Homo sapiens: one gene and its partners. The protein of the gene in region 4 interacts with the protein of the main gene of each other region in a pairwise test. Each region holds a gene or a part of one and is shown on either strand. Other genes may lie near its edges. The genes, in order: CYCS, TNFRSF10D, COQ8A and SEMA4G.

Evidence for each region.
Region 1: the proteins of SEMA4G (region 4) and CYCS interact in binary tests that used the Homo sapiens proteins (3 or more experiments, as listed by UniProt).
Region 2: the proteins of SEMA4G (region 4) and TNFRSF10D interact in binary tests that used the Homo sapiens proteins (3 or more experiments, as listed by UniProt).
Region 3: the proteins of SEMA4G (region 4) and COQ8A interact in binary tests that used the Homo sapiens proteins (3 or more experiments, as listed by UniProt).

The regions. Positions count from the first base shown.
Region 1 is NC_000007.14:25,118,152-25,121,743, forward strand, and holds the end of CYCS (cytochrome c), read right to left. Parts: 3' UTR 505-3,592; downstream 1-504. UniProt on the Homo sapiens protein: Electron carrier protein. The oxidized form of the cytochrome c heme group can accept an electron from the heme group of the cytochrome c1 subunit of cytochrome reductase.
Region 2 is NC_000008.11:23,160,996-23,168,363, forward strand, and holds the start of TNFRSF10D (tumor necrosis factor receptor superfamily member 10D precursor), read right to left. Parts: upstream 3,033-7,368; 5' UTR 2,941-3,032; coding exon 2,791-2,940; intron 1-2,790. UniProt on the Homo sapiens protein: Receptor for the cytotoxic ligand TRAIL. Contains a truncated death domain and hence is not capable of inducing apoptosis but protects against TRAIL-mediated apoptosis. Reports are contradictory with regards to its ability to induce the NF-kappa-B pathway.
Region 3 is NC_000001.11:226,985,279-226,988,076, reverse strand, and holds the end of COQ8A (atypical kinase COQ8A, mitochondrial), read right to left. Parts: coding exon 2,737-2,798; intron 1,625-2,736; coding exon 1,340-1,624; 3' UTR 533-1,339; downstream 1-532. UniProt on the Homo sapiens protein: Atypical kinase involved in the biosynthesis of coenzyme Q, also named ubiquinone, an essential lipid-soluble electron transporter for aerobic cellular respiration.
Region 4 is NC_000010.11:100,965,605-100,972,503, reverse strand, and holds the start of SEMA4G (semaphorin-4G isoform 1 precursor), read right to left. Parts: upstream 3,001-6,899; 5' UTR 2,913-3,000; intron 2,813-2,912; exon of another isoform or gene 2,580-2,812; intron 1-2,579. UniProt on the Homo sapiens protein: Cell surface receptor for PLXNB2. May play a role in axon guidance.

The DNA of each region.
Region 1 (3,592 bases), on a different chromosome or scaffold from region 4:
ACAACGTTGTGTTAATCAGATTGATAAAGCAAAGCTCTAAACACAGAACTGAGAAACTCTGTAAAATGCCACACTAAATATTTTAGGCTTTGTCACAACCACTAACCTCTAATGTTGTAGCCCAAAGCAGCCCTAAACAATACACTAACGAATGTGACTGTGATCCAATAAAGTTTTTTTTCTTGAGACGGAGTCTTGCTCTGTTGCCCAAGCTGGAGTGCAGTGGTGTGATCTTGGCTCACTGCAACCTCTGCCTCTCAGGTTGAAGCGATTCTCCTGCCTCAGCCTCCGAGTAGCTGGATTTCAGGTGCCCACCGCCCCCCACCCCTAGGTAATTTTTGTATTTTAGTAGAGACGGGCTTTCACCATGTTGGTCAGGCTGGTCTCAAACTCCTGACCTTGTGATCCATCTGCCCTGTCCTCCCAAAGTGCTGGGATTACAGGCATAAGCCACTGCACCAAGCCCAATAAAGTTCTCTTTACAAAAACAGGCATCTGGTCAGATTGGGTCCACGGGCTGTTTATTGATACACACTAAACACAATTTTCTCCTAATCCTAGACCCAGCATTTTCTGCATTACACTAGCCCAGTGGTCCTTTCTGAAACTACACTGTTCAAGTTACAGACATATTTAAATGTTTAAATTTAAAATGTTAAATTTAACATTTTAACATGTTTAAATGTTCATAGACACATACAACCTGCACTTTTACTCTTTGAGAAATGAATGCAGTAAATTTACTTAGCTTTCTGAGGGAAATGATAGCCTGAAGGCATGACGTTTTCAAATACCCCAAACTCCAACTAAGATAACCTGGAACCTATTAAATGGATATCCAACATTTTGTACTGAACTCTAAGGATATGAACACCAGGACAATGGTTATTCTGAGGCACAGAAAATACAGCCAAAGCAGCAGCTCAGTATGTACCCCGACAGTGCCTAGAAGAGACTTATGTGGGAGACAAAGTTTCTGGTCAGGTGTATTTGTATACTTCATCAGGCATATGCCTTGCATTACATAGCTCTCGCCCCCAACTTGGCAACATCTTATTGGTTTTCAGAATATACTGATGACGGATTGCCAAAAGAGCTCATGAATGAATATTTTCCATTCTAAGGAAACTTTTTTTCTTTTTGAGACGGAGTTTCACTATTGTTGCCCAGGCTGGAGTGCGATGGGGCGGTCTTGGCTCACTGCAACCCCCATCTCCCAGGTTCAAGCGATTCTCCTGCCTCAGCCTCTCAAATAGCTGCAATTACAGGTGCCGCCACCACGCCCAGCTAGTTTTTATATTTTTGGTAGAGATGGGGTTTCACCATGTTGGCCAGGCTGGTCTCAAGCTCCTGACCTCAGGTGATCTGCCTGCCTTGGCCTCCCAAAGTGCTGGGATTGCAGGCATGACCTACTGCACCCAGACCACTTTTTTTTTTTTTAAAAGAGATGGAGTTTCCTTTATCTGTTGCCCAGGCTGGAGTGCAGTAGCACAATCACAGCTACACTGCAGCCTCGAACTTCTGGGCACAAGCAGTCCTCCTGCCTCAGAGTGGCTGGGACTACAGGTGTGCACCACGACGCCCAGTTATCTAGTTTACTCTTACCCAAGTATAAATGATATGAAACAATCTGAGACTAGTCAGTCAACTGTCCTTGGTAAGATCTCCTTCTTGACAGCCATGTGGATTCTATCACACCCTTTATAATTTACAGCAATCTTCAGTGGTTAAAGCAAAACTGTACATCTATAAAGGAATTCAAGAGAAGTGCAGGAAAAGGATGACAAAAGGTAAATCCCTAGCTACCACCAGAATGTTATCTATCTAAAACTGCCAACTTACGAATAGGTAAAACTTATGGTAAAATTATAAAGGTGAGCACAACAGGAACTGGAATCTATTCTGAAGGGCAATATAATGTACTTCCAAGAATTCTAGATTTTTTTTTTTTTTTGGAGACAGTTTCACTCGTCACCCAGGCTTGAGTGCAGTGGCACAATCTTGGCTCACTGCAACCTCCACCTCCCAAGTTCAAGTGATTCTTGTGCCTCAGCCTCCCAAGTAGCTGAGATTACAGGTGCCCACCACCACACCTGGCTAATTTTTATGTTTTTTGTAGAGACAGGGTTTCGCCATGTTGACCAGGCTGGTCTCAAACGCCTGACCTCAAGTGATCTGCCTGCCTTGGCCTCCCAAAGTGCTGGGATTACAGGCATGAGCGACCATGCCCGGCTAATTCTAGATTTAATAGAGTAAAGAGAAAGTACTTTTGTTACAGACCACTGGTTCTAGTCCTAGACCCAGAATGTCAATACAGTAGCCACTAGCCACTTGTGCCTATGTAAATTTAAAATAAAATACTTTCTAGTCACACTAGCTATATTTCAAGGGCTTAACAGCCACATGTGGTTAGTGGCTACCACACTGGACAGCAAAAGTCTACAAAATATCCATCGTCACAGAAAGTTCTATTAGACAGCACTGTTCTAGACAAAATAAGCATGTAGGTGGCATCTGAATACCCCTTAAATACATCTGGCCCTTGTTTTTGATTCTACCAACCTAGCCACTTACAGCGAAGCACTAGAAATGAAAACATGTGGTTTATAGTGCTCTTTTTTTCCCCTATTTCCTTATTTCTGAAGGTATATATCCCTGATAGAAATGTCCTTTTTAAAAAATTACATAATTGGCCAGGCGTGGTGGCTCACGCCTGTAATCCCAGCACTTTGGGAGGCCGAGGCAGGTAGATCACCTGACGTCGGGAGTTCAAGACCAGCCTGTCCAGCATGGAGAAACCCTGTCTCTACTAAAAACACAAAATAAGCTGGGCATGGTGGCGCATGCTTGTAATCCCAGCTACTTGAGAGGCTGAGTCAGGAGAATCGCTTGAACCTGGAAGGCGGAGGTTGCGGTGAGCAGCGATCACGCCATTGCACTCCAGCCTGGGCAACAAGAGTGAAATTATCTCAAAAAAATAAAAATAAAAAAGTTACAGAATCACATTTTAAACCACCAGAAGTGCTTGGGTATAACTGACCTAGAACATGGCAGTTACTCATCTGTGCCAACACAGACCTTAATATAGGAGGCATAGAAATGAGAAAAATTGGCCGGACGTGGTGGCTCACACCTGTAATCCTAGAACTTTGGGAGGCCAAGGTGGGTGGATCACGAGGTCAGGAGTCCAAGACCAGTCTGGCCAACATGGTGAAACACCATCTCCACTAAAAATACAAAAATTAGCCAGGCGTGGTGGCGGGTGCCTGTAATCCCAGCTACTCAGGAGGCTGAGGCAGGAGAATCACTTGCAACTGGAAGGCGGAGGTTGCAGTGAGATTGCACCACTGTACTCAGCCTGGGCGAAAAGGGCGAAACTCCGTCTCAGAAAAAATAAATGAGAAAAATTTTAAACCTGAAAAAAAATTAAACCTAAGTTACTACTGGGCTGATTACTTCTGGGTTAAATAATAAGATTTCTGAATTTGAAAACCAGGCAGGGCCTGGTGGCTCACGCCTGTAATCCCAGCACTTTGGGGAGCCAAGGCAAGTGGACGGATTGCTTGAGCTCAGGAGTTTGAGACCAGCCTGG
Region 2 (7,368 bases), on a different chromosome or scaffold from region 4:
CTGCCCCAAGGCCAGGGAGCCTGGTATGGAGGTGCAAGTAGGAACAGGTGCAGCCTCTGCTGGGTGGAGGACATGTGCCCTGGGGATCCAGTCCGGAGTGACTGACACCAGCCCTGAGGATGTGGTTCATCCTCCCACACCTGCTAACACAGCCCTCTGAGGTTTACACAGGGCTGCTGAAGATTTTTATCTCCTCTTCACTTTACAGGCAGGAGCTGGGGCCACACCAGTGTCACAGAGCTGGAGGGGAAGCACAGCAGGGCCCAGCTGTTCCCAGCCTCCAATCTCAGGAGTCCTTGAGAGCCTCAGAGTCCGAGATTCTGGGCCGTTGGATCTTTTCGATTCCTACTTTGATAAAGAGAAGGGCGGGGCGGAAGCCTCTGTCACACAGATTGGAACAGTCCAACGCTGACAGAGCCAGGACCTGGGGTCAGGAACTGAGCTCAGCTCCAGGCTCATCTGATGTCCTCCTGACAGCCTGAAGATGGAGACCTTATCTCCATTTACAGGCGTGGCAGGTGGCAGGGACTGGCCCCAGCTGACCACGGTTCTCCAAGTTCACAGCTGGGAATTCAGTCTTCCCTGCCACCCTCCCCTGCTGTCTCATCTGGATCCCCCGGTCATCTACTCCCACTACCAAAACTCCCGTATCCTTGAAAATTCCTAATACCATTAAGGAATGAAAGTACATAACAATGTGATGAATCACCTTTTACTTCCTAGACTAGCAACGAATGAAAGCTAAGTGTAACAAGGGTGTAGGGATACAGGCACATGTGTGAACTAGGTGTGAGTGTAAGCTGAGTTCAATGGTCTTTTGGAAGAAAATTCGTAAACATCTAAAGAAACTTCTGAAATGATTTATCCCACGGAAGTAGAAGTAAAATTCTACTTCTAAGGAGTTGCCCAATAAGCTGGTGCGCATGGACATGTGGACACACGATACATACAAGGGTATTTAGTACAATGCTGTTGGAATTAGCAAAGGCAAATTTGCTTTGGGTTATATCCCATCGGGATGGGATATAACCAGCTGCCTCTAGATGGCAACAGTGAATTAACCTGTGGCTTACCCATGTAGTAAAATACAATACCCTTGTTTAAAAGAAAATCAATCTGAATGTACTGCCATAAAACATCTAATGTGATTTGTGCTAGCTCCAAAATTTTAAAAAGCAACTGTGCATTGAAATGCATTTAATAAGGCAAGATTGATGGAGGGATCAAAGCCTCCTTTGGGACGCATAGAGTTCACATTCCCAAAACTGTGAAATTCAGGTTGCTGGTCTTGTCTACACAGGTCATCCACACATTCTCTCTTCAGGGCCACTGTCCTGACACAGCCATTCTTCTAGCTGCCTCAGGTAGGTCCACCCACTATAAACTATTGTAGAAGTCAGTTGTGTAATTTTTGAGAGGTGAAAATGTCACTGCTGTTCTGAATTTAGTATTACTTCGTTGAAAGAAAACATGGAGACTCTCATGGTTCATGTAATCTTGTTTTATCCTCCCCGTTTTGTTTTTTGGTATTACGTAAGAAACCTTAGAAAGCACTGTTGGCAGAAACGTCAGTCACTCAGAAAAAGTCCTGGCAGTCTGCACATCTTATTTTTATGTCCTTCTTGTGCACCCCACTACCAATCTCAGTTTCCAAACCCAACTCACAACGAGAACTTTACATCTTTTATGCCTAAGGAAGGGGCCATCCCGCGGTCCTGCCTATGGGATACAGAGGGGACACACGGGTGGCAGTGGAAGACACTGACTGCAAGCACCTTGGTTAACCGCTTCCTGCCACTTTCAGGGTTCTATAGGAAATGAAAGTTACAAAAAACAGCGTTGGAAAGCTTTTTCACAGGCTGTTTGTTAAACTGATCTCCAAGAAACACGTGTAACAGTGTAAACATAGGGTTAATTTTGTTTGTTTGTTTGTCTGTTTTTGTTAAGGCAGAGTCTCGCTCTGTCGCCCAGGCTGGAGTGCAGTGGTGCAATCTCGGCTCACTGCAACCTCTGCCTCCCGGGTTCAAGCAGTTCTCCTGCCTCAGCCTCCTGAGTAGCTGGGACTACAGGCGCAGGCTGCCACGCCTGGCTAACTTTTTTTTTTTTTTTTTTTTTTTTTTTGAGACGGAGTCTCGCTCTTGTTGACCAGGCTGGAGTGCGATGGCGCGATCTCGGCTCACTGCAACCTCCGCCTCCCGGATTCAAGTGATTCTCCTTCTGCCTCAGCCTCCCGAGTAGCTGGGATTACAGGCGACCGCCATCACGTCCGGCTAATTTTTGTATTTTTAGTAGAGACGGGGTTTCACCATGGTGGCTAGGCTGGTCTCCAACTCCTGACCTCAGGTGATCCGCCCGCCTCGGCCTCCCAACGTGCTGGGATTACAGGCGTGAGCCACCGCGACCGGCCTGGGTTAACGTTATGAACGAACGAACGAACGAACGAACGAAAGAGGCAACCGCTCTGTGGCTTCCTGAGGTTCACTCCGGGGTTTCCATCTTGACTCCCTCCCTCCGCTGATTCTGGAACTTCCTCTGGGGCAGCTCAGTGCGGTCCTCGCCGCACGGGACAGCCAGGGGGAGCGCGCGCTCTGCTCCCTCGCGGCCCGGTCGCTCCTGCCCAGCCCGGGCACCCCACTCTTCCCCTGACTCCGACGGCGGGTTCGTCCTGCCCAGACATGCCCGGCCGCAGGCGACCCGGGCCAAGCATCCCCACCGTGTCCCCCTCTCTCCCTGCCCACTCCCGGCGCCAGGTGCGCTCTTCCCCAGCCAGGGACCGCGGCGGAGACTCACCGGCAGCAGAACCGCGACGATGAAGACGACGAACTTAAGGATCTTGGGGTCCAGGAGCCATGGTCTGGTTCCCGACGCTGTCCTGGCTCCTGGATAGCGCCCTGCTCGAGCGCTCGAGGCGGTCGGGACGCTTTGTCCCCAAAGTCCCATGAGAAGGGAGGAGGGTGGATCGAAAGCGCCAAAAATCAATCAGAAATCGTCCCCGTAGTTTGTGCGCGTGCAAAGGTTCTCGCAGCTACACTGCCAGAATAGAACGTGCTCCTCCGCTTTTATACCCCGGAAAAAAGGCGTGGTCAGTTGTACTCCCTTCCCGCAGTCACTTCCAGGCACTCAGGCTGGGTCTCCCCCAGCACCTCCAGGAGGGCCCAGGTTGTGTGGGTGGGTGCATGGACGGACAGGAACTGGCTCTTTCCGGCAGCGGTGACCCAGGGCCTGCGGTTTGATTCCGGGTCCTGTCCAGGCTGTAGGCAGCAGAAGGGGAAGGAGCTGAGGCGCTGCCCGCTGCGCTGCTGTAGTCTGGGTAGTGAGCTCCAGAGGAGGCACTGGAGGCCCATCCTGAGCCTGCTCCCTCCCCGGGCCGCCTGTCTCTCCTCTTCTTAAACCCTGAACTACTTCCTGGCCTCAGGACTTCAGTCCACTCTTAGCTTCTGCTCCCACTCCCTCCTCCCACAGCGGCCTCACTGACCAGTGCACTGATGCCACTGATGTCTCCAGCCTCCTTGCTGCTGTGACCCAGCTCCAAGCTTCTCTGGCAGGGGCTTGGTATCCCTCAGTAGCGGGTGCCTGGCACCAAGGAGGGGCCCAGTGAACACATGAGTGGACAGAATGAAGGACACAGAGGCCATGACAGGCACCTGCAGAGGCTGAGGAGTAGGTAGGAGGGAGAGGAACGCCGGGGGCATCCCTAGCCACAACCTGGCACCCTTTGCATGGTCAAAGCACAAACACTCCCTGACCAACCTTGAGGGCTCTAGTATTGAGGCCCCATGGAGACAGGGGAATCAGGGGAGTGCCTTCCAAAGTCTGTCCCCAAGTCTATTGTCTACCCAGGTCCAACTGTCTGACCTTGGGCTACTTACCTCCCCATCCAGTTGAACACACTGCCGCTGTGAGGGCAGACCCAATGTGTGGTTTTGAAGGGTGCCAGCTTGTGACCCTAAGCAGTAAGGTCAATGGCAGGACTCCTAGACCCTTGGGATGAGTCGGCTCCTGACCCCTCACATGGTAGATAGAAGAGGATAGCGCTATAGAAATGAAGGTTTTTTGGCTCATGAGAAACCTGGGAATGAAATGTCATCCTCTCCACAGGCTTGGATTTGAGCGATGGATCACCCTGAGCACCTTCCAGGGCCCAGACAATGACCTAGGGTCAGAAATGTGAGCCAGGGCCGGGCGCGGTTGCTCACGCTTGTAGTCCCAGCACTTTGAGAGGCTGAGGTGGGCGAATCAAGAGGTCAGGAGTTCGAGACCAGCCTGGCCAACATAGTTAAACCCCATCTCTACTAAAAATACAAAAATTAGCTGGGCGTGGTGGCGGGCACTTGTAATCCCAGCTACTCAGGAAGCTGAGGCAGGAGAATTGCTTGAACCCAGGAAATGGAGGTTGCAGTGAGCCGAGATTCGTGCCACTGCACTCCAGTCTGGGTGACAGAGCGAGACTCTGTGAAAAAAAAAAAAAAGAAAAAAAAATGTGTGCCAGGTCCCAGGCACTGAGCTAGGGTCAGAAATGTGCGCCAGGTTTCAGGCACTGAGCTAGACTCAGAAATGTGTGTCAGGCCCCAGGCACTGAGCTAGGGTCAGAAATGTGTGTCAGGCCCCAGGCACTGAGCTAGGGTCAGAAATGTGCGCCAGGTTCCAGGCACTGAGCTAGGGTCAGAAATGTGTGCCAGGTTCCAGGCACTGAGCTAGACTCAGAAATGTGTGTCAGGCCCCAGGCACTGAGCTAGGGTCAGAAATGTGTGTCAGGCCCCAGGCACTGAGCTAGGGTCGGAAATGTGTGCCAGGCCCCAGACACTGAGCTAGGGTCAGAAATGTGTGCCAGGACCCAGGCAATGAGAAATGTGTGGGGTCAGGAATGTGTGCGGGGTGCAGATCCAGGCAGGAGGTGAAAGGTCAGGGACTTCAGGAAGACTGACAGCATTAACACAGAGCCACCAGGGCCTGCAGGAAAGTCCTTAGAGCACCTTAGCTCCCTTGGCCCTGGAGGGTGGACCACACAGTATAGACCAGAAACCAGACTGCAGGTAACAACGCATTCTCTGTGCCCTGTGTGGAGCACTGACTAGGGCTAATGGCAAAAGGCTGTGAGCACCTCCAAGGAACTGGGCCTTTAGAGTCAAGTTTCCACTTAAGAGGCACTTACTAGCTTGAGATGGAACACTAACTGAAGTCTCCCCTGTCACTGAAGGACATAAAATAATCTTGAAACCTGAAAAACTGATGATGTCTTCAGGAATCTTGGAAAAGCTCTAACGGGGAGGCCAGTCCCAGAAGAGTTCTATTACAAAATGGATTTTTTTTTTTTGAGATGGAGTCTCACTCTGTTGCCAGGTTGGAGTGCAGCACGATCCAGGCTCACTGCAACCTCTGCCTCCTGGGTTCAAGCGATTCTCCTGCCTCAGCCTCCCGAGTAGGTGGGATTACAGGCACATGCCACCACGCCTGGCTAATTTTTGAATTTTCAGTAGAGACGAGGGATCTTCATGTTGGCCCGGATGGTCTCGATCTCTTGACCTCGTGATCCACCCGCCTCAGCCTCCCAAAGTGCTGGGATTACAGGCGTGAGCCACCTCACTCAGCCTAAAAAATGGAAATGGTTGATATGGGATCCTGGTGCCTGAGGAAGGCAAAGAGGAGACACTCATGAGCAGGGAGCCTCTGTTCCCCTCAGACTGAGTCTGGAACTGGGTGAGGAGCTGCTGGATTCTGTGGTCACTTGGACATTGCCCTATACACAGCTCTTTACTTACTGACCAAGAGCTACTTAGTTTGTAGACAGTCATTCCTAGATGAATGGACAACATCCTACTTGGAAGGCCACCCCTCTGATGGAAGAAGGCAAAGGCAAATTGGCTAGGTGGGTTGGATTGCATGCTATTTTCCTAGCCTTATGGAAGATTTGAACAGCAGCAAAAGCCCCTGTACTTGAGTTTTTTTCTGGCTCATGGACAGTCGTCAATGTCCCGGTCATAGAGTTGGGAAGGAGAATGTGAAAGTTGATCGCACAAATTGGGTCATTCTTGTCACACCCAACTAAAACAGAGTCAAGAGGCCATGGGGAAGAAAAATCACTGTATTACCCCCAAACTGCAATTCTCTGTAAGTCTGGCAGCTGTAACGTGAAACTATTAATAGTTCTGTCTTATATCTATTGACACAACCAGCTGCTGCTCTAAGACCAGCCTGACCCACTGCAGTCACTCACCAGTCAGAGCATGCCACTTCTTCAAATTTTACAGCGCCAATGAACTTTCTGCAAAAAAAAATACTTAGTATTTCTCATTTAAAAAAAAACATCTGGCCGTGTGCGGTGGCTCACACCTGTAATCCCAGCACTTTGGGAGGCCGAGGCAGGCGGATCACGAGGTCAGGAGATCGAGACCATCCTGGCAAACACTGTGAAACCCGGTCTCTACTAAAAATACAAAATAATTAGCCGGGCGTGGTGGCGGGCACCTGTAGTCCCAGCTACTCGGGAGGCTGAGGCAGGAGCATGGCATGAACCCAGGGGGCGGAGCTTGCAGTGAGCGGAGATCACGCCACTGCACTCCAGCCTGGGCAACGGAGCCAGACTCCGTCTCAAAAAAAAAAAAAAACTTCCAAACTTCTCTTTGTTCTTTGGACGTACCAAAGACAACTTGGTCTTTGTGTATGCCAAGAATTGCAATTCTTACTTTCCAAATAAAGGGTATTAAATTTGGATATTCGTCTCTACATTTTCCATTGTTTCCAAGAGTAAGGGGAAACTGACCTAGTGTAGGGATGTCCATATGAGGCCCGACCCTATGGAAATCTCTAGGGGAGCTTGAGGAGTGCATTAAAGTAAGACACGCCCATGCTGGTCAGTAGAACCCACCCTCAGGTTTAGAAAGTGACTGTAATCAGCAAGAGATACCCCCGTGTACTCCCTTGAGGTGGTCACCAGAGGCCACGAAGCAAAAGAAGTGGATATGGGGGAACCACAGTGACGCAGAGATGGGCTGAATCGAAACACATTCCTCTTGCTCTCTCTCAGGCACATGACACCAATAAGAGCTGTTCTGTCTAGCAGCGGGAGAGACAGAGACTGCCTATAGCTATGAGGCAGATTCCCTGATGAGGAGGCCCTCAACATACTTGGAAAGTGAGACTGAGGGCAGTGCCCTGGGGGGTACAGGTGAGTCTCGACAGCAACAGAAACTGACTGTGGATTGTCTTTTCCTTACCTGGTGGAGGCTGCAAATGCCCAGAGTGCTATTAATATAAAAGAACTGAAAGAAGGTATTATTCTAGTTTGGACCACTAAACCGAACTTCCTTGGACCGAGAAACAGGCTGTTCAGTGCATAATGTTTAGCAATGGGCAGAGAGATATCCTCCT
Region 3 (2,798 bases), on a different chromosome or scaffold from region 4:
GCCTCTTTTGGGCCTGTGCATTCTGCAGATGCACTTTCAACTGCTCACAGGTCCGTAGAAAGGGCCCCAGCTCAGTGTCCAGTGTGTCCTGTTATCTAGGAATCAGTCTGGCCCCAGGAAAAGCCACTTTTCAGGACGTGGTCCTCAACTGCAGCTGATGTCTAGAGAGGAGACGTCTCACTGTGATGCAGACCTGGCATCAGCCGTGCTGGCAGGTGTCACTGTCCTCCCAGTTGCCACCATCACCAGGTACAGCAGCTTCAGCAGTGTGGTACAGCCTCCCGGGGGCTGGGGCAGTGACACCGCAACCTCTCCTCCTGTTCTCCACCCCTCCCACCTCCCTTCTTACAGGGAACGGGGCTGAGCCTTCCAGGTTCAGGGCCAAGGGCCTCACGCTGAACCAGTCCCAACCCTTGCAAATGGGCTGTGACACTGAACCTGCTGACCGTCAGGTCAGAAAAGAACCACCACCACGAGCTAGAAGATACGGGTCGTCATTCTCCAGAATACAGAAGAGGGTACACGCGCCAAAGCACTTCCCATGAGCATTTTTATTAAATTGAAACAAGTTGTTGATTCGATAATTACAAGACTTGTACAAAAATTCACAGCGCCTGTGAGGAGCCTTTGGCTGGAACTGGTGACACCTGTGCCTCTCCGGACAGAGGAAGGAAGTCCCACCCCGCCTTCCAGCAGCAGCGAGCCTGTGTCTGGCATTCCCTGTTCCGCTGCTCCCACCCTCACTGTGGGGCAGCAGTTCTTTAGGAACATTCAGCTGTCAAAGGTGAGAACCAGCCCCACAGGCCTGGGCCTCGCAGGCTTAAGGAGCACTTGTTGGCACTGTTAGCTCAGCACCTCTCCCAGCTCCAGCCCATCGGCTGGAGAGGAAAAGGGCAGAAAACACAAATCTCACTCTAGAAACACATACACACACCTACTACACAGATGATAAAATCCCACAATCGTATCTGTTCATGTTTCTGGGTTTTGCACTGAACAGAGATTGGAAGGGAGTAAGGACTCTCTCCCTTCTGCTTAACATTCACATCAGGAAAAAGAAGAAAACAAAGTTGCCCTTTCATCTTCATCTGCTTATTTCAGAGGACACACGGAGGCAGACTGACCGAGCAGTGGGGCTTCATCTTCATTCTTGCACTTCTCACCCTACAACCATTTAGCAACAGAAACCGTGGAAAGCGCTGGCTACGGGGCTCCAGGCAGCCACCCCCCTTATTGGGCAAAGGAGTTAAAAAGAGCATCACCACGACCTCGCTACTGGTTTTTGGCCTGTCTGAGGGAGAGAGTTCCCGCGGAGCCGGCCTGGGCGTGGCCCGCAGCCCTACTGCTGGGCCTGCCTCTTGCAGTAGTTGCTGTAGGCCTCCTCGAACATGGCCTTGCAGGGGAAGCGGGCCTTCAGCTTGGAGCAGATGAGGAAGGAGCCCCCCATCTTCCTGTGCAGGGAGTAGGTTTCCTCGGGTGGGGGGACGAGACGGTGCCTCAGCATGACGGGAATCAGGTTGTGGATCTTCTCGGTGGTGCTCTGAGTGCCAAAATCAAAAGGCTCATCAGAGGCGAAGGCCTCCCCCAGGATGAGGATGGCATCCAAGTGGGCGTCTTCCATGACCTGGGGCAAGAGAGGAAGGATAAATGGCGGCGAGACACCAGAGCCCTCCACCAGCCCGGGTTCCTCCCACAGTGCCCGGGGCGCTGAGTTCTCATTCAAAGCTCTGCTGTAAACTGGATTACATCATGGTAATGGGCATAAACTCAAACCCACAGGGGCCGGGAACACGAGGGTAACATGGACTGGGCTGATGTGATACAAAAGGGAGTGGCGGGGCCTGTGGCAGAGTGCAGAGGATGCGTCCCGCCTCGTGGCACTCATACAGAGTTTTAACAAAACACTGTTCTGGCCAAAAAGAACAGAGTCCGTGGGCCTAAGCTGGCAGGGCCTCCCACCATGCGTGTCTGAGCCTGCCAGAGTCCACCCAAGACACACCCAGCAGCCGTGTGTCTGCCCACGGGAACTAGCAACCTAAGGAAGCCGCCGCCAGCAGAGCAGGGGAGAGGAGCTGCCGCCAGGGACAGCCCAAGGTGGTCAGAGGGACGGGGCGGCCAGGAATCGAGTCAGTGCGAGTGGCCATAAGGAAGAGGCGGGAGAGAGCTGCTGCCCGCTGAGCGCTTACAGCTGAGATAAGGGGGGCTCAGAGATACTGACAAGCCTCAAATGACACTCCTATGAGACGGCAGACCCAAGGCTTGACCTGGATTTCTTTAACTCCTTCCCCACTGTCAAGCAGCAAGCGGAAAATGCCACTTTGTGGGTGGCTTCAGGCGGCACCAGCACAGACCGTTCCCCTTTATTTAAAAGGCTTCTAAGGTTTCTTCCAACTCCCCCCAGGGAGGCTCGATGAGGGGAGGGCTGGGGCTTCCCTTCCCACTTGCTCTGCACGTTGGCTCAATCGAGGCCCAACCCCAAGCCCTAAGTGGGCAAGAGTGAGAGGCAGAAACAAGAGCTTCACGACAAGTCCCCAACTCACTGGCCCACTCGGAAAATCTCACGCTCAGCAGGGCAGCATGGGCCGGGGTGGGCCCCAGCTTTCAGACCGTGCCCAAGGAGGCCCGGGCTCTGGGGGCCCCTTGAGGGCAGCTGCCCCCTGTGCTTTCATCCATTCTTACACAGGGAGCCGGGCCCTGGGTCAGCAGGCCCAGGGGATCCCCCGCAACCCTGCTCACCTTGACCTCGTAGCCGGTGAGGAACTTCATCTCTATGGATTTCGCCCGCACAGTCTCCCTGT
Region 4 (6,899 bases):
GCCCTTTGATCTGTATGTGGGTGGAAGATGGATGGCGTTACCCAGACTTCAGGGGGCACTGAAAGAAGGAGGCCCAGCATCCACAGAACGCCCACGCCAGGATCGACTCACAATCATTCTGTCTATCGCTTTGCTCTGATGCAGGAGGCTGGGGTGGAACTTACCTTCCTTACAAGACCCTAGATGCCCACAACCCGAAACCCAAGGTCATGACCCTCTTCTGGCCAAGTCAGAAGCTCCACTAGGCCCTCAAGTCAAAGGAGCTGGGGTTCTTGGAGAGAATGCCTGCTTCTCCCAACAATGAGATGCAACTCGGTCAGCAGCTGCCCCTGCTGCCTGCGGGGGTGCCTTATGCAGGAGGGCCTAACCAGAGAGGTTTAATGGACCTTTGTTTATTTTGTCCTGCTTTCCCTTTGTTTTTTCTTTTCCCTGGCCTGAGAGCTCCCTCTGGAATTTCTCTTTAATTATAACTTCTTGGTATTCCTCTCCAAGGGGGTGCACATCTCTGCCCACGCCAGTCTGTATTGCACCCTCTGGCTAGGCATCCACACGTGTCCCTATCTGCAAGTAGGCATTCACAGGCATTGGGGTGGGTACCTAGGATCCCCCTGGTTGCACAGGTATAATGTCTGTGCAGAAGGCTGTAGTGTGCAAGGCCAGTTGAGACATAAGCAACGTGAAGAAGGTAAATGATGGGATCCCTGAGCCCTTGGCCCCTCCCGACACATCTTGGACCCTCCCTCAAGCCAACCAGTTGGGGATGGGATGGGGGTGGGTGGCAGGCCTCTCCCAACCCCTGTAACAGGCCTCCTAATCACCAAGGGGTTCCTTGAAGAGTTCCTGGGCTGGGTGAGGTGTGGAGAGACCTAATACATTCCATCTCATCAGCCACCCACAGGCAGGGCCAGAGGGTGCCACTGGTGCCTCCTCTCCCAGGTCAAATATTAACTATCTGGCCTTGGAAAGAGGGGAGGAATCAGGAACTGGCCAGAGGGATAACAGGAGCAATTATTCAAGAGGTAAAGGTCAGCACTGCAGGGGCAGAGCCCTGAGGGGTAGAGTCAAATATGAAAGGGAGAGAAGAGGATTCCCTGACCCTGAAAGGGCATAGGCTCCCTGTTTGGGATCTGGGACAGCAGGAAGCTTCAGGCAAGCCGGCCATGCCCCACCCCTCCCTGTGGAGGCACACCTGTTTACCTTTGGGACCTCCTATTTGCTCAGTGCAAAAGGCATGTGTGTGGGGAGCACTATGGCTAGGAGGAACATGCCCCAGGTTAGAGGAGCCACTCAGTGTGGTGCATGTCACACTTATAGTTTAAGAGTCACATGGGTGACTATTAGGAAGGTGATATACATGCACATGGGTGCACACACACACACACACACATGTTCACAAGGAGGACTGTGAACACGTGGATTCACAGGGGTCATTCACACATATACTCACAGGGAGTTTTGTGCACACATATGCTCATACAGAGGGCCACAGCCACAGGTAATCATACATATTCACATGTGACGTTGAATTTACATGCCCATCCATTCAGCAGGTCACACAGCCTCAGACATTGAGGAGAGATAAACCCACACATGTGGGTTTGTGTCAAGGACTGTGCACCTATTCAACAGGAGGGTCCTATACATACACATGTATGTGTAGGGACATGCACACAAACCCATTGATATAGTGGGCCAGGCAATCATGTTCACAGAAGGGTCAAGTACATGTGTGCTCACACGCAGTTCTTGAACACACAACTACATCCATGCAGAGACAAGCACACATGCATACAGGGGTCCAGTTTTTGCCATAGGCTTGGAGGCTGCCAGTGTCCACTGGGGTGAGATGCAGAGCAGAACCCTGCCTCTGTTCCTGAAAGTCCCAATTCTAAGGCCCAATTTCAAGTGTGTGTTTGTGTGTGGGGGTGGTGAGGGGGTTGTGTGTGTGTGTGTGTGTGGTGATGGGGGAGGCTTCTGACCTTGGATGGGCAGATGGGATGGGTGCATGAGTCAAGGCCGCTCTACAAGGGAGGGAATGGGAAAGTAACTCAGGCAGGAGGAGGCCCCTAGCTTCAGCAAAGATGGAATGGAACGCATAATTTAGTACTCCTCCACCCCTATGTATATTGCGGTTCTAAAGGTGGGAGACGGGCTGGAGCTCTCAGCCCCCACTTAACCTGTGGGAGGGGGCGGGGCTAAGTGGGCGGGGCGGAGCATATCACCCCTCCCTTCAGTGGCGAAGTACGGGTTTAAGGTCTCCAGTCCACGCCCCACACTCCACCCCAAGTTCCACAGTTCGGGTTCTTCCCCAGGGCCAGCCCCCTGAACTCTGATCACCTTTCCTCTATTAGATCTTGGGGTGGAGGGAACTGGGGAGGAGAGACCCTTCAAACAGGATCAATGGAGGATCAGCAGGCTCTCGACCTTCATCCCAGATGTCCACCTGCCTAGTGTAGGCGGTATTTCCCTCTGCCTAGTAGGATGGCGGTCTCTCCTGGCTTGAGAGAGCCCCTCCCCCGGGACCCCCTCCCTCCAACATCCTGGACAGTCCGCGGTCCTCTCCCTTCGTCAGGTCTAACCTCAGTCTCTACTGCTGCAGCTCGAGGACAAGCTCTCCTTCGATCCCGCCGGACGCCGGGAGACGTGACCCAGATCCTGGGGAACACTGTTCGCCACGCGGCCCCCTCCCCGCGCTGGTCCCCGACTCCGTGGTGGCCGGTTTGCACCCCGCGCAGCCCGAGGCCTGGCCCGCGCCCCTCTAGAGCCGTCATGCAGGACCGGGGGACTTGGTGGTGAGAAAGGCCTGGCCCAGCTTGGAGGGTAGAATGGACGTGGGGGAGGCCTTGCCCGACCCCCGGCCCGCAGCCCCAGGCTCACGCCAGGGCGCCGCCCGCACTCCTCGCCTTGCTCACCTTTGCGCTCGGATCCGGGGCCATAGAGACAGCGACGCGCGGCTCCGCGGCCCCACAGCACCAGCTGCGAGAGGAAGGGGCCGCGGCTGGAGGCGGGGCGGGGGGGGGGTGGTGGAGGCGGAGCCGGGGGTGGGGCGGGGTCCTGAAAGGCGGGGCCGACTGGGTGGGGTGAGGGGAAGGTCGCCACTCTCTTCTTTGCGCCCCCTACTCTAGCACAATAGAGGCGGTTTGAGGGCGAGGCTCACACACAGCCTTCGGCCATCGGGCGACCCCCCACCTCTAGGCGCTGCGGCCCTGAAATCGCCCCCTGGTGGTGGCCTCGCCACCCCGTGCACCCTCCACATGCTTATAGCCCGTCCTCTCCTCCGCTGTAACCCTAGGACCCCCCTGACTTGCCTACTGCTGGGGACGTGCAAACCTGTCCTGGCGTTGCGGGGTTGGGGGACCCTCTCGGAGGGCCTTCTGGCCTGTCCTCTAACCTGGACCTCACTCCCTGTGCTCCTGCCACCCGCTTCTGCTCTCGGCCTAGGGTGTGGAGGGAAGGCTACCCTAGGTGGCGACTGGACGTTAGGGAAGCTCTGAACACAAGGTAGGGGCTTGATTCCCAGCTTCAGGGGCTGTTCAGCTTGAGCTATGCGTGGGGGAGATGGGGTCAGGCCTGAAGGGGATAAAGTAACAGCCTGACCTGAAAGGCACACAGAAAATGCTTTTTCTGGATAAATAAGCCACAAGCGTTTGCACCTGTTCACTCACCAAATCTTAACCCTAACCTAGGCTCACCTCAGGGACTGGGTCATTCAAACACTTGCCTTCCCCTCCAGCTCATCTTGGGCACCATTCTTATCCAGAACTTAGAGTGCACCCTTCTAGGCAATCAAGTACCCTATCCTTCCCAGATTCAATCACCTTACCCAGCAGCAATCTAGGAAACCCCTCACAATCAACTCCCCAACTCCTTTAACTCAACTAGGATGGTCCTTCTGTGCAAACTTGGTTCCTGCCTCCTTTAATAGGTCACAGCCTATTAAAGTGAACTTAGCCCCTATAGTCCAAACAAAACCTGCATTCAGGCCCTGACCCAGCCTGGTCCTTCCTCCTCCATCCATGACAGTATTCATGTGGGCTCAAGAGATGGACCAAAATGATAAAGGCCACAGGAACATATGTGATTGACTCTTGCATGTGCCTAGGAGTCAGAACAGGATTCAAGTGGCACATTTAACTAAAGGAAACTTGGGAAAGGCTTCATCCTTCTTTCTGGATTCCCCAAAGCTCACAGTTTGGCACTGAATCATATACAATCTCGTAGTTTGGATGGCTGTGTGTGACTGCAGACTGCTAGACAGCAGGGCCCACATCACAGTTCCACCTCCCCCAACACTCTGCAAATAGGATGTGTGTGGCGGGGAGAGGGAAGGTAGCTGGGGAGAAACACAATAAAAAATGTACACACACTTTTACAAAGAATATCCTGCTTCATTTTTTATTTGTACCCTCATCCCATCCTGAGGAATTTATAGCCCCATTTTATGGATGGGGAAACAGGCTCTAAGACATTAAGTAACTTGCCTTGAAGTTCATTCTTGTGTTTATGGAGAGGACAATCAAGACTGGAAAAGTCTGAGAAGGAGGAAGCAGGGTAAGCCAGAAGGGGAAATACCATTGGCAAAGGTAGAAATGTTCAAGCTTATGCACAGGCTTGTGTTGGGGAACTAAGGAAGGGGCATGAAAGAGGGCAGTGAGTTTGATTTGATGAAATGGCTGGGGGGGGGGGGGGGGCGGGGAGGGGTTCCTAGTGGGAAATAAAAGGGAAAAGTCAGCTAGTAGTTTGAAAAAGACCACAGAAGAAAATCCTGAAAGAGATGATGGACTGAGTAAGGACGTCTGAGGTGGGAAGACCAGTCAAGGCAGGGCTAAGAAAGATAAATCTGCAGTCCTTATCAAAAAGTGGGTTGGTGGTAACAGTGGAGGCAGGGTAGGAAGACTGCTGGTCCTTCAGTAGCAGATAGGAGAGCAATTAAACTGTAGGGGCCCAGGGGGCTAAGAGGCACAGCTTCCCAAATGTTCACAGAACCTGCAGTGCTGACTTCAGATAGCTCTGGAGGTGGCGAGTAGGCCAGTGTGGTAGGCTCAGTATCACTCAACTTCACTTTATGAACCAAGCTTTGCTCCTCTGAGGTGCTGATGGCAAACTCAGACATTGTTAAATGAGCAAAATGTGTGATTTCAATGATCACTGGGCAGTTACTTCAGTACTTTTGATAGCAGACCACAATCCATTTCCTTCTGCTAGCCTCCCAGTAAAATCTCTAAACCTAATGAGAGTATCAGATGTAAAAGCAATTAATGGAGCTGCCCATAGGAAGCCCTTTTGATTGACAGTATGTCTCTCTGCAAATCCAGCTGGTAAAATAAGAACGGGGGAATACTGACAGACAGTGGAAAAGAAAACTGGAAATCAACTAAAGAAATTAACCCTAACCCAGCCATAAATCTGCATCCTGGGACACAGGCAGGTCATTCTTTGAACAGGCTGTCACTCATCCATAAGGTCACTACCCTGGCTGCTTCGCAGGGTGGCTGTGAGAGGATTCCATTTGGAAACCTTCTGGAGAACTTCACACACACAGAAAAGTATGAGTTTTGTTTTTGCTAGTCTATTTTCCCCAACTTTGCTGTAAGAAAGTGGCTGAGGGTAGTGCTGGCCGTCTTCAGCAGTGATTGTCAGCCACTTACACACCAGAGTTTAGCTCCACTTTGCACAGAACAGTTACTTACTGTAGCAGGGATCCTAGGTGAAGGGGGTGGGTATGAATTCCTGAAACTTGAGCAGGTTCCCTGAAGCAAGAGAACTCTGGCCTAGTCAAGTTGTCCTGCTTACTGTTCAATGTGGCAGCATTTCTGTTCCTGCTTTGCCATCTCCATCTCTGGTTTGCCCAGCACTTTCCCTTTAGGTGGTGTGGTCTTTATTTTGGCTATATATACAGCTGAGGTGCTTCTTCTGTAGGGGCTGTCACCAGTGCAACAATGCGGAAGTCTCACTATTCCACTGTGCCTCAGAAGCCTGTTTAGTTTTCCTCCCAGCCAGTCGTCTTGGAGTCAGACCCAAAGCTGGGCCTTCTGGTTTGCCCTCTCTTGACTCCAGCCTAGGGAATGGTTAGTAAGGGAAAGGGAGTGTCAGGACATTCCCACAAATGCTGGAAAACCACCACCCATCACCAATTTCTCAGCTTTAGCATGCTGGCTTTTAAAAAGTGAAAATTTTAATTAAAAAAAATCAGCAGAGATAGCTGGACAGAGAAGCTCCAGCTCCCGGTATCCAAAGAAATAGGGCACACTTACAACTATAATTTTTGGAGATATGGTTTGCTCAGATGTCAGTACACCCTGAGGTGTCTGCTTAAGATCAAATCTGTCATCAGAGAAACGCCTCGTTAGAGCAGCAAGCATTTGCTGAGTTCTTGCTATATGCCAGGCACTGTACTAGGCACTTTTCATGCATTAGCTCGCTTAGTCCTCACAAACCCTGAGGTAGACACCATTATTCAACAGATGAGGAAACAGTGAGTTTAAGTAATTTGGCAAAGATCAAAAGGCTAGTATGATGAATCTGGGATCTGAGGTCAGGCCTTGGGGCAAGGTCAAGGCCCTTAACTTGCATAAAGCTGTGCTGCCTGCCCTCTAGTAAGTACTTACGGCAATGTCTCTGCTTCTTCCTGGGCTGTCATCCCCTCATCCCTCCGCCCCACTGTCAGAGAAAAATGCTCCCATTTAGTCTCTTTCTAGCCAGCCTGTCAGAAGGCAGAAATACTGGCATGGTTTTGGAACTCAAGGCCTCTGACAATGCCAAGGCCTTCTATGAGCTCCAAAGTTCCTCCTATGAGGTTTCAACCTCTGCCTCCCAAGTTGGCATACCCAGATCTCTATCTGCTTGGCAGGTTGGAGGTGATCTCAAGCCCTGCTTCTGCATTGTACAGCTTCTTCTTT